Homo sapiens: one gene and its partner. The protein of the gene in region 1 purifies or fractionates together with the protein of each later gene. This does not show direct contact. Each region holds a gene or a part of one and is shown on either strand. Other genes may lie near its edges. The genes, in order: PHETA2 and NMT2.

Region 1 (3,009 bases):
TTTCGATGGGTCTGGGGTCCATTTCAGCTCAGCTGGGGCCTGTTTCTTTGGATTTTAGAAAGCCGTGCCCAGGTCCTGCCATGCCTCCTGTCTGATGCAATCTCGTTATTCTTTTCTCGAAGTCCGCCAGTGTCCAGTTTTTTTTGCATGATCCTCACGACATCCCTTTGAGAGAAAAGGAAGGAAAGACGAGCCCACTTCTCAGGAGACTTTAGGGACCTTAGGGACACAGCAAGCGAGTAGGAGTCCCAGGGCTGGGGTCCAGGTTGCCTCTGGAGCCGGTGCTGTTCCCCAGGAGGGCACGGAACCACCTCCCTCTCTGATCTGCTGCCATCTCTCTTGCCTCACAGTTCCCGTGGGAGCCATGAAGCTGAACGAGAGGAGTGTAGCCCACTATGCACTCAGCGACTCCCCAGCGGACCACATGGGCTTCCTGCGCACCTGGGGGGGCCCAGGGACCCCACCGACCCCCAGTGGCACTGGCCGAAGATGCTGGTTTGTCCTCAAGGGCAACCTGCTATTCTCCTTTGAGAGTCGCGAGGGCCGGGCCCCACTGAGCCTGGTGGTGCTGGAAGGCTGCACAGTGGAACTGGCCGAGGCTCCCGTGCCCGAGGAGTTTGCCTTTGCCATCTGCTTTGATGCCCCTGGAGTGCGCCCACACCTGCTGGCCGCAGAAGGGCCGGCGGCCCAGGAGGCCTGGGTGAAGGTGCTGTCCCGGGCAAGCTTTGGCTACATGCGCCTGGTGGTACGCGAGTTGGAGAGCCAGTTGCAGGACGCACGCCAGAGCCTGGCTTTGCAACGCCGCTCATCCTGGAAGTCTGTTGCCAGCCGCTGTAAGCCCCAGGCTCCTAACCACCGAGCTGCGGGCCTGGAGAATGGCCACTGCCTCTCCAAGGACAGCAGCCCTGTGGGCTTGGTTGAAGAAGCGGGCAGCAGGTCTGCAGGGTGGGGGTTGGCTGAGTGGGAGCTGCAGGGCCCTGCCAGCCTCCTCCTAGGCAAGGGGCAGAGCCCTGTGTCCCCTGAGACCTCCTGCTTCTCTACCCTGCATGACTGGTATGGCCAGGAGATCGTGGAGCTGCGGCAGTGTTGGCAGAAGAGGGCCCAGGGGAGCCACTCAAAATGTGAGGAACAGGATAGGCCCTAAGTCTGGGCCCTTTGAGTCAGGAAACCAGGGCCAGTTCTTTTTCAGGAGTTAAATGTTTACCCATTTCCAAGGTTGCGTTTTGGGAGGGGACATGGGTTCTCTCCTTCCTGCTATTTAGGCATTCTCCAGGTTCGAGATCCACCCGTGTGTCTGGAAGGGACTGCGGGACCATTCCTTCCATCCTCTTTATTTCCTGAGGTCCAGAGAAGGAAGGAGACTTAGCAGCCACAGAGCAAGACCCCAATCTCCTGACTGCACTGGCCTGACTGCCCCCTCCCAGGGGATGTTAATGAAATGAAGGAAGTGGGGAATGTCACCCGAGACTGTCACAGGCTTGCCATACCTTTGGCCTACACACCGGGCTCTAGAGCCATAATTTCCAACCTGGGGAGTCTCCTGTGCACTTAAATCCGAGGTAGGCTGCAGTATCGGCTTGAAGCTCTGACACTGTCAGAGAAAGTGGATTTATTGTGTCATAGGAGTTTCTGGGACCCAGCTCTTCCTGAGAGGGGTGGGAAGATTGGGGATGGGATCCTCACTCAGCAGTCTGGGTAGGGCCCTTTGAGGCAGAGGGTCTTCGGCCAGTGAAGAGAGATTTATTCTGCTCAGAGTGCTGGGGTCCCATCCTTTCTCCCTGGCTGCCCTGTTAACAGATGGTGCTGGACCTTGCCCCGGAAGGGGCTTGTAGCTTTTTTACGTCAACGAAATGCCCTCCTGTACTCTGTCTTCAGCAGCCAACTCCTGGAGCTGCCAAGTGAGGGGTTAAAGAAGAGGTGGGGAGGCAGTGTGGCTCCCTGGGAAAAGTCTGTTGCTTTGGTTCTCAGTCCTGGGTATTCTAGGAGCTTGGACACGGGATTGCGTTTCCTGTGCTAAAATTCTCTCTCCTGGCTGGGCTCCGGTAAACTGAAGCTGCTCGAGAAATCACCTGGGAACTCTCATAGCCGTTTGTCACCCAGGGTGTACTTGCCAGGACCTCTCCTTGCTACTCTTCCCAAAGTCGGGAGGCAAAGCGGCTGGGTCACCAGAGCCTGACCATACTGACGCTCCAGGGGGAAGACGCAGAGGCCGGGAAGAGACACCCCCTCCCAAACACATAAAACTTGCCCCTTCCTAGCCTCGGCTCCCCTCACTGGGGCCTTGGGCAGGACCGACCCGCATCCAACTAGGCCTAAGGGGTAGGCTCTGAGCCTCTTACCCCTAAGAGGCGGAGATGCGCCCAAGGCGGGCGCCCGGCCTGTTCCCCAGCCCTGCCTGGAAGCCCCGCAGCCACTGCATTTTGTTTAAACACAGATAGCACGGGCCTTTCTCTTATTGCTACAGTGTTTTGTACACGGTTAAAACACTAGTAAAGCTTTTTCGTTATTACTCCTTCCGCTCCCTGGGTTTATTTCCACAACCGGCCGCTGAGGCCTGTTCTGACGGCCGGGCGGACCCAAGACCGCGGCCACGCCCAGCAGGACGCGGACTGAGGGAGCCGGGGCTGCGCCGCCACTCTCGTGACGCCACCATGCCGGCCAGTGACAAACACCTCCCTCCCGCCGCCCCAGGAGCCGCCGGCACTGCGCGAGTGGGAGGGCTGGGCTTCTCGTGTACTCCTCAAACTCTCGCGAGGCTTCGGGCGGCTTTCTTCCCGAGGGCGGCACGAGGGCTGGGCGGTGGGGTGCGGGTGCCCGGGTGAGGGGCGGAGCTGGGGGCATGGCGTCCGGAGCGGCTCGCTGGCTAGTATTGGCACCCGTCAGGTCCGGGGCTCTCCGGAGCGGGCCTAGCTTGAGGAAAGATGGCGATGTCTCCGCCGCATGGAGCGGCTCAGGCCGGAGCCTGGTACCGTCGAGGTCAGTCATCGTTACCCGCAGCGGCGCCATTTT
Region 2 (3,818 bases), on another chromosome or scaffold:
GAGTTTTAATAGTTTTTGAGGAGTTCATCCATTTCTTCTAAATTGTTGAATGTATGAGTGTAATTAATGTTCATTTTATTCCCTTGTTATCCTTTTAGTGGCTGTGGGATCTGTACTGATATCTCTTCTTTCATACCAGATATTGGTGATTCGTGTCTTCTCTTTCTTTGTTTTTGTCCATATTGGTAGACTTGTATCATTTTATTGATTTGTTTCCCAGAGAACCAGACTTTTGTTGGATATTCCCTGTTGTCTTCCTGTTTTCAGTGTCATTGATTTCTACCCTCGTGTTTATTGTTTCCTTCTGTCTGCTTGCTTTGGGTTTATTTTGCTCTTCTTTTCTAGTTCCTTGAGGGAAGAACTTACTGACTTGAGACCTTTCCCTGTTACTAGTAAGCATTTAGTTCTATCAGTTTCCCTCTCTGCACTGCTTTAGCTATTTCTGACGTATTTTGGTATGTTGTATCTTCGTTGTCATTCACGTCTATGTATTTTTTGGTTTCGTTTGAGGCTTCCTCTTTAGCCCACCCCTACTTAGAATTGTGCTGTTCAATTTTGCTGTGTTTAGAGATTTTCTGTTGTCTCCCTATTACAGATTTCTAGTTTGATTCAATTATGGTTAAAGAACACACACTGTATGGTTTTGATTATTTTAAGGCTCTTGAGGTTTGTTTTATTACTCGGGATATGGACTGTCTTGATGGATATTCCATGGGTGCATGAAACGTGTATACCACTACGGTTGTGTGGAGTGTTCTTTGTATGGCAATTGCATCATGTTGATTAATTGAGTTATTCAGCTCTTCTGTTTCCATGCTGATTTTCTGTCTAGCAGTTCTATCACTTGATGAGAGGGGCATGGAAGTCCCCAGCTGTAATTGTGGATTTGTCTATTTCTCCTTCCAACACTGTCAGTTTTTCTTGATTTCTTCTGGGCCTCTTGTTTGATACTCACATGTATATTAGGGTCTTTGTGTCTCCCTAGTGGATTGATCTTTTTATCATAATGTAATACCTCTCTTTCTAATAATTTTCCTTGCTCTGGAGTATACTTTATTGTATATTACTGTGACCAGACCTGCTTTTAAAAATTGTTTGGACTTTTTCCATCCTTTTACTTTCAAACTATTGATGTTATTGAATTTGAAGTGAGTTTCTTGGAAACAGCCTATAGCTGGGTCATGTTTCTTTACCCACACTACTGATGTTTCTTTTGATTGGTGTATTTAGACCACTTACATAAAAGGTGATTATTGGTATGGTAGAGCTTAAGTCTACCATTTGATTATTTGGTTTCTTTATGTTTCTTCTGGTTCTTGTTCCTCTGTTTCTTTTTTCTTGCCTTGCTGTGGATTACTTGAATATATTTTAGGATACTGTTTTATTTATAGTACCTTTGGGTGTATTTGTATAGTTTTTATGATGGTTGATGTGAGTATTACAATATATATATGTGACTTATAGTCGATTGGTAACAACATTTATTACTTTGAGTCACCTTACTTTTATTTAGGTCACTTTACCTTTTTCATTTTTAAATATTGTTGTCTTAAATATCAGACAGTATTATGATTTTTGTTTTAATCATCAAGTATGATTTGTAACACTGATTAATAATGATGCTTGAGGAGAAGCATAATTTATTATATGTAGCCCAAATTTCTACTCTATTATTCTTCCCTCCTTCCTGATGCTTCAAGATTCCTTCTTTTATTATTTCCTTTCTATTTGAAGAAATTCCTTTAGCCAGTCTCAGGGTATGTCTGCTAGTGACACATTCTTTTGGTTTCCATTTGTGTGAGACTACCTCTGTTTTTAGATTTAGTTTCCCAATTTTTTTTTTTAATTTTTTTTGGAGACAGTGTCTTGCTCTGTCACCCAGGCTGGAGTACAATGGTGCAATCTCTGCTCACTGCAACCTCCGCCTCTTGGGTTCAAGCAATTCTTGTGCTCAGCCTCCTGTGTAGCTGGAACTACAGGCGCATGCCACCACACCCTGCTAATGTTTTGTATTTTAGTAGAGACGGGGTTTCACCACGTTGGCCAGGCTGGTCTCGAACTTCTGAGCTCAGAAAATCCACCCACTTTGGCCTCCCCAAGTGCTGAGATTACAGGCATGAGCCACCATGCCCAGCCCTAGTTTGCTAATATTTTACTTAGGATCTTCTATACTCACTACTGAGGTTGGCCATTAATTTCCCCTTCTTACCCTGTCCTTGTCCTGTCTTGATACCAAAGTTAGAATGAGCTGAAGAGCTTGTCCTCTCTTTTCTCTGGAACAGTGTATGTAATAATAGGGATTACTTGTTCCTTGAAAGTTGTTAGAAGTTGCTTATAAGCCATCTAGACATGGTGCCATGGTGGGTTTTGTTGTGAGCGGGGTTTTTTTGTTTTGTTTTGTTTTGTTTTGTTTTTTATCAGTCTTTACAATTGATTGGGTGTGAGGGACAATGGAAAGATCATCCCACTCTTCCCCAACAGTTGGTGATTCTCTGGTCATTTTAACAGCAAGAGAGGAAACAGTAATTTTACCAGCAATATGAATGTGAAGAAGTAGTTTTCTGAAAGCAGATGATGAAAATGGGGTGGGGAACCTAATCAGGTTCTGCAGGTGCCTGCAGTAATTCAGCGTATGAGATGGATATGAGAAATTCTTAGAAGAATCTAAAATCCTTATTAAACCTGAAGGTTGAATTCATCTCCAATACTGAGCTGCTAATATAGAGCAGTAGGGAATCACTGTAGATTAACCCCTTTAGTTTCTTGCTGGCTGAAGAAAGGTCTAATGACTCGGAAGCCTTTGAAAACCAAAGCATACATCCTTCTGGAATTTCCTTTTCTGCTGAAAGAAATACTAGCAGTGGCATGTGTGTGGTCCAGCCTCTTCAGCCGCACGATTCAAACACATCATATTCTAAAAGTCAGCAAGGCCACCACAGCTAATTACAACAACCCGAACAATACTGGCTAATTTCTTGTATTGGAAGCTTTGCCAGTGATGATGAAATGAATGTCATCCATTGTATCCCTTATTTTTGATAGCTGCAAAATTCTCCAGTTGTTCACATGTGTATATTTTGGTGCAGTAGTAAGACCTTTCACAAGCTTGCGAACTCTTCCAAACAGCTTCCAGACTCTACCCAACCTTACTTAGGCCTGATATAATTCTTTCTGTGTGCTAAGACAGTGTGAGATAGTACACAGTATCTTTTAGTTGGAGAAGGCAGCCCTCTAATCCTTAAAGCTTTTATTTCTGCAAAAACAATGAATCTGCTTTTATCACTGTTCCCTTAGTCTAAAGAATTGACTCATTTGTCAGCCTGAGGGAAGCTTTCCTTTTAGGACATTCTGCTTCTATCTTTCTTTCTTTTTTTTTTTTTTTTTTTTTTTTTTGAGTCTCATCCTGTCGCCCAGGCTGGAGTGCAGTGACACAATCTTGGCTCACTGCAACCTCCGCCTCTGGGGTTCAAGCGATTCTCCAGCCTCAGCCTCCCAAGTAGCTGGGATTACAGGTGTGCGCCACCACACCTGGCTAAGTTTTCATATCTTTAGTAGAGATGGGGTTTCACCATGTTGGTCAGGCTGGTCTCGAACTCCTGACCTCATGATCCACACGCCTCATCCTCCCAAAGTGCTGGGATTACAGGCATGACATTCTGCTTCCTAAGAACTTTGTGCAAATCACCAATGGGCACTTAGGCTGAAGTCCCAACTCCAGGCCCTTCTTGGCCTCTACACAGCACAATATAAGGGGCCCCAAATTGGACTGCCGAGAAAGAAGTGTGACTTACTGCTTTTCGTTCTCTGGGGCAAGGGAG

What was found.
Region 2: the proteins of PHETA2 (region 1) and NMT2 purify together in Homo sapiens (affinity purification with mass spectrometry; one large-scale study listed by BioGRID and IntAct). This does not show direct contact.

What each region holds. Positions count from the first base shown.
Region 1 is NC_000022.11:42,076,930-42,079,938, forward strand, and holds the end of PHETA2 (sesquipedalian-2), read left to right. Parts: intron 1-350; 5' UTR 351-364; coding exon 365-1,144; 3' UTR 1,145-2,509; downstream 2,510-3,009. Other genes in the region: SMDT1 (essential MCU regulator, mitochondrial precursor), read left to right, coding at 2,840-3,009. UniProt on the Homo sapiens protein: Plays a role in endocytic trafficking. Required for receptor recycling from endosomes, both to the trans-Golgi network and the plasma membrane.
Region 2 is NC_000010.11:15,113,039-15,116,856, reverse strand, and holds part of NMT2 (glycylpeptide N-tetradecanoyltransferase 2), read left to right. Parts: intron 1-3,818.